Linked DNA regions of Homo sapiens: region 2 is linked to region 1. The links come from fine-mapping of genetic effects on gene expression. A gene starts in region 1. The other region holds a variant in brackets. All regions are shown on one strand. Distances are between the middles of the regions. Region 1 holds the start of AARS2 (alanyl-tRNA synthetase 2, mitochondrial). Region 2 overlaps TMEM151B (transmembrane protein 151B).

Region 1 (5,236 bases):
CTGGATGCCTTGAACCTACCAAGATAAGTAGGTCGAATGGCAACGTAAGGGTAAATCCCACCTCCAGGGAAGATAAAGCACCACTGTCTTAAACAATGAAAGGAGCACCCCAAATGTTGCTCACAAAACCCAGCTGAGTAACTCGCAAAAAGCAGACCCCATTTGCATGTTAAACCTCAAAATGAAATTCCCATAAATACTAAGACAGTGGATCAGTACCCTTCAGAGAAGTTCCCAGGATTGGTAACTTCCCTGTCTGATGAGTTTTCTCCACCTCCATCTATCTTGGGAAACTGCAGTCCTTCAATTTAACTTCCTCATCAGATGACAGCTGCAAACCAGAACAGACACGTCCCAATCCTAGATGAACCGCTTTGCTTCACTGGGAAATATTAAAAAGAACCTAATGATTCACCAAAGAGCACCACATTTAAAGAAAAGAAAATTATCATTTTTAGTGGCAAAGACAAAATTAGATGAGAGAAAAACCTACTTCAAACAGAAAACAACTAAAAACATTTTTCTAAAAATCCATGGTACATGCTACAACATGGATGAACCTTGAAAATATTATTTTATGTGAAAGAAGCCAGTTACAAAGAACCACATATTACATGATTCCATTTACATGAAATGTCCAGAATATACAAGTCTGTAGAGACAGAAGGTAGATTAGTGGTTGCCAAGGGCTAGGAAGGATGAGACGATTGGGGGTTAATGGCTAAAGGATTTGGGGTTTTATTTGGAAGTAATGAAAATGTTCTAAAAGTGATTGTGGTGATGGATGGGCAACTCTATGTAAATATACTAAAAGGCATTGAACTGTATACTTTATTTAAATGGGCGAATTGTATAGCATGTAAATTATATTTCAATAAAGCTGTTTTAAAAAAATTATATGGCTCCACACTAGATCCATGTTTGGAGTTTCTAATGTAACACAATGACTTTCTGGGCAAAATCTGAAAAAAAAAAAGTTGATGTCAGTACTGAGTAGAGGCCCTGCCAGGTTTGTATGGCAAAACACTCCCATCTCAGTTTGGGAAATAATTTCACAGTCTTGTCTAAAGATCATCAATCTCAGCTGGGCGCAGTGGTGCATGCCTGTAATCCCAGCACTTCGGAAGGCTGAGGTAGGCAGGTCAGCTGAGGTCGGGAGTTCAAGACCAGCCTGACCAACATGGAGAAACCCCATCTCTACTAAAAATACAAAATTAGCCGGGCGTGGTGATGCATGCCTGTAATCCCAGCTACTCAGGAGGCTAAGGCAGGATAATTGCTTGAACCCGGGAGACAGAGGTTGCAGAGAGCCGAGATTGTGCTATTGCACGCCAGCACAACAAGAGTGAAACCCCATCTCAAAAAAATAAAAAAGTCATTAATCACACAGAAATCCCCAGCTGGCTTTAGCTTTCTGTTCCAGAAACACTGGAAAAACCAAAACAGGCCAAACACACTTTCAAAACAACACCTTTAATCTATGTGGGCAAAGGGAGAAAAAGGGGATCATGGAATAGGAGTTATAGGTGCTGTCAGAACACAAAGTTAAGAATTTACTATCACTATAGAAATTCAAGTCCAATGTAGATTCCGCAGAGAAACTATGTATACAAAGACCCCAAATAACTTAACACACACAGAATCGTGGCTAAAAGAGACCACCCTGATGGCTAAGGCCTTCTCGGTTATTACACTGACCTCAGCTCTGGAACCTCTATTGAGTTTTAGCTTTGGCAGATTCTCTTCTGTCTTCCCAATCTGTTTAATTTCCCAAGCCAAGGGCATCATGAGAAGCCCCATGAGCACCCTGATTGCATCCACAAGGGCCTGTTGGCTTCAGGGTCACAGCTGTTACTATGGAAAGACAGAAGGGAGAGGTAGAACAGGTATATCTCTTATCCTAAACGAAAACACACAAAACCTTAGGGCATTAGAAGGCTTAGAGAGTGAAATCTCTGCAGCTATTAGCCAACAGCTTCCTCCTGCCTTGACGACCTGGATTCTCTCTGATCCCCAGGCAAATGAGAAGACCAAATGTTAGGCAATTAATAATATAGCAGATGCTGTTTGGCTTCTGTGTTCTCCTATAGACTCCTGCTTCACGGGCAAAAATGGCCGTGTCTGATGCCAAGGTCCAAGGAAACTGGCAAATGCCTAGAACAGTGCCTAGCACATACTAGGTCTTCAATAAATATTTGTTGAATACCTCTTGAATGAATGCTGATACTCCCCTGTCACTCTCTGCCTTCTTCCCTCAGCCTGGAAAAACACACACAAAACACACACACACACACACACACACACACACGAAGTTGAATCCACACCTGTTTATTGCAACCCCATCTGTAACTTTGCAAAACTAATAAGCACAACAGCAATTACTGCTAGAATACGGATTTCAGTGGGCAGGGCATTTTGTCAATTTTGTACCCTAAAAGCCCAAAACAATGCCTAGCACATAGTAGGCTCTCAATGAATATTTGCTTAATGCCGAATGAATTAAGAGCCTACTATGTGCCGGGCGCTGTGCTAGACTCTGCCAGCGACCCAATCGATCGCTTCCACCCCGGCGGCAGAGGCCGCCCCCTGAGTCCTCCTACCGCCAGGGGCCGCTGTAGGAAACGCCTGGCTTCCTTCCCTCGTCACTCTTTGACCACGTAAAGTCACTGCCCGGAGCTACGATGGCAGCGTCAGTGGCAGCTGCAGCCCGGAGGCTGCGGCGGGCCATTCGAAGGTCGCCCGCATGGCGGGGCCTCAGCCATCGGCCGCTCTCATCGGAGCCCCCTGCAGCCAAGGCCTCGGCCGTGAGGGCCGCCTTTCTGAACTTCTTTCGGGACCGCCATGGCCACCGGCTGGTGCCCTCCGCTTCCGTGCGGCCCCGCGGCGACCCCAGTTTGCTTTTTGTCAATGCGGGCATGAACCAGGTGAGGGCCGAACCATACTGATAGGGAGCGGAGTTCGTGAGTTTTCTGGTGAGAAAGACGCTGCAGGATTGGGCAAAAGAAGCGAGAGGCGGAGTTCGTAGCTTTTGGGGAAAGAGGGCGGTGCTTGGTTGGGTAAAGTGATGGGGGTACGGCGCTCAGAGTATAGGGAGGGCTTGGGGAGGGCTTGAGCTGGGAACTTCTGGATTGGGATTGAGTATTAGGTCCAGAAATGGCTGGAGTGGAATCCCGAGGGAGAAGTCTGATTTCATTTATTCGTTATTTAAATAAAGATAACGCTTTCATTAAATGTTTATTGATCACCTATTGTTTGCTGAGTACTATTCTCTAAGGTTTTGGTTTTTATCAACCACTCATCTTTTCTAGACTTCATTGTCCTCATCTGTAAAATAGGGGCGGCATAAGTTAACCTTAGAGGCCGTCTGGGCTCCCTACTAAATGAGTCTCAGTTTTGTTCCCTGAAGTTATTGGGTGTGGTTGAAGAAGCTGAGACGGAGGATGCCACCTTTCAGCGTCCCATTTCCAGCTCCCAACACATTCCTCCTTCTTTTACCTTGCCTATTTTACTAGGCAGAGGGTCTCCGGTTCATGATTTGTTTACCTCTTCTCTGCTCCCCACACACCAGAGATGGCTGTCCCGAGGCTCCCAGTTTGTCCTCATAGACCAAGATTACACTGCACTCTCAGGGGCACAGTCAGCCTTCGGTCTGAACAGCCATCCCTATCCTCACTCCCCACATTTCCCTTCTACTGAGAAATTGGATATCCCTCTCCCCCTCCCCACTCTATGTGCTTCCAGTTCAAGCCAATCTTTCTGGGCACCGTGGATCCACGAAGCGAGATGGCAGGCTTCCGACGTGTGGCCAACAGCCAGAAATGTGTGAGAGCTGGAGGACACCATAACGACCTGGAAGATGTGGGTCGAGACCTTTCCCATCATACCTTCTTTGAAATGCTTGGCAATTGGGCCTTTGGGGGTGAATATTTTAAGGTGAGTCTCTGGGGATCAGTGATCAGCCAAGAAGGGAGTCAATTTGTCCTGTTTCCATTGTACTGTCTGCTTAGGCAGGGCCTCATACCAGATGTGGAGGCAAAGTGCTAGTTGAGCCGGTGTAACAGGAATTACCTCACCTCCCTGATTGGATTGTAAGTCCCTGAAGGGCAGAGACTGTACTTTCTGCCTAATGATCACTCAAAAATTGTTGTTTGAATAAATGGTCAAACAGCAATGCTAAGGTGCTTACTGGAGTTAAAGATCACTCTAGGCTAGAGTAGGCAGAGAATTTCATGTGAAAGTGGGACTTGGTCTGGGACTTGAAAGAAGATAGGACTTAGAAGAAGGGGGAAGCTTTCTGGGCAGGAAAACACTCAGAGGCAGTAATGGTTCATGGCTTATTCTGGGAACAAGATGGCAGCAGAAATGCTTTTGTCTTAAGTCGGGAGCTAAACTCATGTGGCTTGATTACTTCAGTGGGGTCTCCCTCTCACCCGTCTTCCCCCCCCACCCCATGCTGGTTTCTGCTGCAGGAGGAGGCTTGTAACATGGCCTGGGAACTGCTGACTCAGGTCTATGGGATCCCTGAGGAAAGGCTCTGGATCTCCTACTTTGATGGTGACCCCAAGGCAGGGCTGGACCCAGACCTGGAGACCAGGGACATCTGGCTGAGCTTAGGGTAAGTCAGCCCCCTTCTTATGTTCATTCCTGGAGGTCAGGAGGACTGGAAAGTGGAGACTACCAGCACCAATCCTCAGAGTCTTAGCATTTCATTCCAGGATATTGTGGGGTCAGCCCTGTTCCTCCTCTTGCTGAGCTGTGACTTGAGGGAGGGGCTCTCATGGCAGAGAGAGTCCCAGCTTCTGGGTCTGTCTGTCTCCCACCACTCACCTGCTTTTCTCCCCAGGGTGCCTGCTAGCCGTGTGCTTTCCTTTGGACCACAAGAGAACTTCTGGGAGATGGGGGATACTGGCCCTTGTGGGCCCTGTACTGAGATCCACTACGACCTTGCTGGTGGGGTGGGAGCCCCCCAGCTGGTAGAGCTTTGGAACCTGGTCTTCATGCAACACAACAGGTAATAGGGTGCTGAAGCAGGATGAGAATCCCTGACTAGAAGTGGGAAAGGTGGCAATTAGAAGACTTTGATCTGTTTCATATAAAAACAAACATGTAAACGGTGCTTACCGTGTGTCAGGCACAATTCTCAACACCTTATAGATAATAACTGATTTAATTGTAGTCTTTGCCTGTGACAGCTTAAACAAGTCACTGCTATTCTCTGTTGAACTTGATGATCAAC
Region 2 (5,236 bases), 33 kb after region 1:
GTGGCTCACGCCTGTATTCCCAGCACTTTGGGAGGCTGAGGCGGGTGGATCACGAGGTCAGGAGATCAAGACCATCCTGGCTAACACGGTAAAACCCTGTCTCTACTAAAAATACAAAAAATTAGCAGGGCGTGGTGGCGGGCACTTGTAGTCTCAGCTACTCAGGAGGCTGAGGCAGGAGAATGGTGTGAATCCGGAAGGTGGACCTTGCAGTGAGCCAAGATCACGCCACTGCACTCCAGCCTGGGTGACAGAGCGAGACTCCGTCTCAAAAAAAAAAAAAAAAAAAAAGATAAAAAAGGAAGACCCAAGCAGCATACCCAGCATGTAGTAATTGCTCAATAAACAGTGATCTTTCCTCCCTGCTACCTGCCACCAATTCTACACTACTCTGCCATGCTGGTAGGCCTGGCCCCCTCCAAGACCCAGCCAGGTGGCCAACACTAGGTGAGCCAAGTTTGCCAAAGATCTAGGTGGGCAGGCTGATTATCCCTGGCTGGCAGTTGCTGTAGACCCTCTGCCTGCCCACAGATCTTCAAGCTGACCCGAAGCAAGGTGGATGATGACAAGGCACGCATCATAATTCGAAGCCTTCTGGACCACCCAGTCCTCGAGGAGCTGGACTTGTCACAAAACCTCATTGGAGACCGTGGTGCACGAGGTGCTGCCAAGCTGCTGAGCCACAGCCGCCTGCGTGTGCTCAACCTGGCTAACAACCAGGTGCGTGCACCCGGTGCCCAGTCCCTGGCTCACGCTCTGGCACACAACACCAACCTCATTTCCCTCAACCTACGTCTCAACTGCATCGAGGATGAGGGTGGCCAGGCTCTTGCCCATGCCTTGCAGACCAACAAGTGCCTCACCACGCTGCACCTCGGTGGCAATGAGCTGTCTGAGCCCACCGCCACACTCCTGTCACAGGTGCTCGCCATCAACACCACACTCACCAGCATCAACCTGTCCTGCAACCACATCGGGCTGGTGAGCCACCTATTCTGGGCTTGTGAGGGTGGGTGTGGAATCCAACTGCCAGGGGTACTTGTGGGATAATTGTGAAGATCACAGAGTTTACATACTACATACTGCATCAAGTATGCACACATACTGTGTATCCCAATGATTATTTTTCCTTTAATCCTTACAGTTACCTAAGTAACTGTATATTAACCCTAAGCATATTTAACCCTAAATATATTTAAGTATATAACTAAGTATATTTAACCCTACTTTCTAGATGGAAAACTAAGTTTCAGAGAGGATAGTGAGTTGCCCAAGGGCATCAAGTCAGTAGCAAGTGGCAAGGCTACGATTCAAACCCAAGATTGATTGAAAGCCTGAGTCCTTTCTAATAGACTGTGTCTCTAAAACTTTCTTAACCAAGTCTGAGAGTAAGAAATGCAATTTACGACCAGGCACAGTGGCTCACGCCTGTAATCCCAGCACTTTGGGAGGCTGAGGTGGGTAGATCACCTGAGGCCAGGAGTTCGAGACCAGTCTGGCCAACATGGTGAAACCCCATATCTACTAAAAATACAAAAATCAGCCCAATGTGGTGGCATGCACCTGTAACCCCAGCTACTTGGGAGCCTGAGGCAGGAGAATTGCTTGAACCCAGGAGGCGGAGATTGCAGTGAGCTGAGATCGTGCCCCTGCACTCCAGCCTGGGTGACAGTGCGAGACTCCGTCTCAAAAAAAAAATGCAATTTACATGAACACTGACATAAACATAATATTGAAATTTATGACGTGATATATGCTGATATTTTCCTTTACATTCCATTCTATTGTATTTTTTAAAATGCTTCTGTGACCCATTAAATTGACTTTGCAACACACTACTGGGTCACAACCACAGAATGGTAGCATTCTGCCTCCCAACGTGAAATTCTTTCACATTGGGGCTAGCCCACCCAGCCCAGCAGGGGTTGGAGCTGTGATGACCATTGAGCAGGGCCCTCCATTAGGTCACTGAACCCTCTACTAAACCTCCCCATGAGAACAGCCTTGCTCACCTACACAGGCACATACACGCACACACACGTGCATGCGCGCACACACACACACACACAGTTTCTAGAGGGGGTGCTGTTGACTGCAAGTAATAAAAAGCTTAATCAGAAATGGCTTAAGCAGGAGGAATATTCAGTGTCTCCCACAACCAGAATTAGAGGGTTGTAGGGTCGGTAAACCCCTGGGTTCAGTGCTACCCTCTGCTCTGCCCACCCCAGTCTCATGGCCAATGCCTCGCTAGTGCTTCTGTCAGTCCCAAGATGGCTGCCACAGTTCTGACATCTCATACAGGGACATGCCCAGAGGCAGAAACCGGGAGAACACCTGCTCCCTTTTCTTCTCTTTTTGGAATGAGGAGAAGCTTCCCAGAAGCCACCCTCTCTCAGCTTCCCCCTCACATCTCATTAGATTTGTCCCACATGCCCATGGCTGAACCAAAGGAATGGAATTATCTTCATTGCCAGAGATTCATGTTTTTCAAACTAGTAGGGTTGAGATGTCAATTTAGTGGGTATTGGCTACCATTTTTCAAATGGAAAAGAACAGAATATGTCATCATG[C/T]GTCACAAATAGGTTAAGTATTGTTTTGTGAAACTTTTGTTTTAGTCACATCTACCTGAAAATGTGTAGTATGTGTGTCAGATCCTGGGTAGTGATGTAAATGACCCCTTCCTTTGCACCCTTCTCCCAGGACGGTGGGAAGCAGCTCCTGGAAGGCATGTCAGACAACAAGACCCTCCTGGAATTTGACTTGCGCCTGTCAGATGTGGCCCAGGAAAGCGAGTACCTCATTGGCCAGGCCCTCTACGCAAACCGAGAAGCAGCCCGCCAGCGGGCCCTGAATCCCAGCCACTTCATGTCAACCATAACTGCCAATGGCCCTGAGAACTCTGTGGGATAAAATGACCTGACTTGGATCATGGCCCCAGCCCCATCCCTCATTTCATACCCCTGCCATGCCTGCTGCAGAGTATCACACTGGTTCAGAGGGAGCGGGGAGGGGGACTGTGAATAACCTTGGAGTGATCAAGGGTTGTATGGATGGAGACATGAGGCAGGGAAGGGAGCCTGGCATGGGGGAAGAAAGGGTATGCAGTAGGGACCCAGCCTTTGTGCCCAGGGAAAGGATATTACTGGACACCCACAAATGACCAACTTCTTTCAGGAACAGGGAAGTCAGAGAGGTGTCTGAGGGACTGTGCCTGCCAGATTCTCCCGTTGGGGCTGCCTGCCTCCCTGACTCCCCACCATTTTCTTCTCTACCAAACAGATCCTTGATCTTCAAACACACACACACACACACACACACACACACACACACACACACACACACCCTCTGGCTACAGCAGGGCTATGCCTGGCTCTCTCTGCCACCCTCATCCCTGTAGATGCATTTCCCTGTTGCTTGACTCTGCTTTAAGTGATCCAGTTCTACAGGCCACGCCATCCCCTAGTTCCCCAACTCCCAACCTGGGAAGGGGACAATGAGCTGACACCAGGGGCTCAGACCCAGTGGACTCCTCTGGGGAGGCAACTGTAGATGACAACTTCCAGGGAAGGATGACACAATCCCTGCCACCCACCCCAGAGAGCTTCCCTGGGAGGGAGGGAAAGAAGTGCCACACTGGGACAGGAAGTCAGTGAGTCATCCACGACTTTATTATCCACCAGTTTGATTTGTACAATCTTTGCGCTTAAATCCACGACAAAAAGGCCACAGTGTGATGCACCCAATTGACAGAGACCTGTCTTCTCCCCAGCCAGGCCCAGCCCACCCCACAAGCCCTTGTCCCCAGGACACATGGAGCCTTCCAGGTGCCCTACATGAGTCCCCCATCACTCTGTAGCTGTCCACCCTGGGGCCACACCTACAGGAATCACATCAGCCCCCAGGGCCACAAGAGACCTAGCTGACTGATTCAGGCTGAGCGCCATTGCCCATCCTCCTTGGGCTGATTCATTGGCCCAGAGCCTCCAGAACTGTGTCCCCAAAGGGCAGGTCATGGGCTACAACCCCAGTCCAGGAGTGCCTGCTCTCCAGGGACTCCTTCCGCTAAGCAGGCGCTGAGCAGAGCACCAAAGGGGGCTTGGGAGTGACTGCATGTGTGTGCCTGTCTAGGCAACCTAGAGTCTGTCTGTGCCTGACACCCTCTGACAGTTCCGGAGTGCAAACGTGTAGGTGTGAGGGTGTGTGTGTGTGTGTGTGTGTGTATAGCCACAGCTGCTAGCAGAAGTTCTAATTAGAGAAACAAGAACATTCAGTGTAAAGTTTAATTTTAGAGATTAATTAATTTTCTGGTTTTCATTTTCCCTGGCAATCAGTAAAGCTACCAAGAAAATAGACCAAAGAATTGGTTTCTCTCTAAGTCTGTGCATGTGTGGGAGATGAGGCTGTCTGAGACGACCTAGGCAGAAATGGTCAATACAGGCAAAAATAATAATAGAGGTCCCCCTTCCCCTCTTGTGAGACCAGGCTCTGTCTCAGGAACAGGCCTGAGGGAGGAGGAGCCACGTTCCTCCTTCCTTGGAGCCCTGAGGTGGCCAGGCTGTCCCCACACAAAGCATGACATCCAGGTGCCAGCTGGCTAAGAAATGGAGCCTGAGGCTGCAGCTCACCACCTGTACCTCACAGATGTCCATTCAGAGGAAAGAAGGGTGCTCCAAACGCCAGGCCCCCAAGGAGCACAGACTCAGGGTCCAGGCAGGTTCAGTGCTAGTAGGCAGGTGGGCACTGCTGTCCAGGAAAACCTGGTGGGCAGCTGTTTCCCCTGCCCAAGCCTCCCTCTCTCTAGCCTCTTCTCCCTCCTCACTCAGCCATCTCTACCTGAAAGTAAAGCTAAACCCTTTAGAAGCCATGGGCCATGGTATCCCCACAATTTGGGCCCCTCGCACTCCCCGCTAGGAAGAAGGGAAGGGGAGCCAGAGGCGATGTTGCATAGGTGGAGGCCACACAGTTGGTGGTGCAGGCCTGGCTGGGCTGAAGGAAGATGAGAGGGGCTGAAGGAGGGTAAGGAGGAGTTCTGATGGCTCAGGCGAAGTAAGAAGCATCAGGGGTGAGAGATGTGGGTGGCCCAAGGGTTATCCTCTCTAGCCTGAAATGTGAGCTCAATCCCTGGGTGCTAAATCTGCTGGGGAGACTTTAGCCAGGGGAGTTGGCAGGGCAGGAGGGCTGTTCACAGACATGCACACTGAAGCACATCAGGGTGGAGGTGGTGGGGGGAGCACAC

What was found. PIP is the estimated chance that this variant, and not a neighbour inherited with it, causes the effect. A credible set is the group of variants that fine-mapping cannot tell apart.
Region 2: its variant is the best candidate, but not a certain one, in a credible set for the expression of AARS2 in whole blood (INTERVAL, PIP 0.80).

Annotation. Positions count from the first base shown.
Region 1 is chr6:44,310,769-44,316,004 of GRCh38, reverse strand. AARS2 (alanyl-tRNA synthetase 2, mitochondrial) reads left to right here and starts at 2,658. Exons shown (of 22, transcript NM_020745.4): 1 at 2,658-2,924; 2 at 3,742-3,933; 3 at 4,470-4,615; 4 at 4,844-5,011. The coding sequence starts at 2,682. It overlaps LOC124901322 (a long non-coding RNA gene), which reads right to left. Exons shown (of 3, transcript XR_007059594.1): 3 at 1,458-1,854. RefSeq lists an enhancer at 2,354-2,913.
Region 2 is chr6:44,277,855-44,283,090 of GRCh38, reverse strand. TMEM151B (transmembrane protein 151B) reads right to left here. Exons shown (of 3, transcript NM_001137560.2): 3 at 3,647-5,236. It overlaps DRC5 (dynein regulatory complex subunit 5), which reads left to right. Exons shown (of 5, transcript NM_182539.4): 4 at 532-981; 5 at 2,701-4,357. The coding sequence ends at 2,910. Among named protein-coding and RNA genes, the nearest start is that of TMEM151B, 10 kb to the right of the region's middle. The variant C/T (reference allele first, on the strand shown) is at 2,571.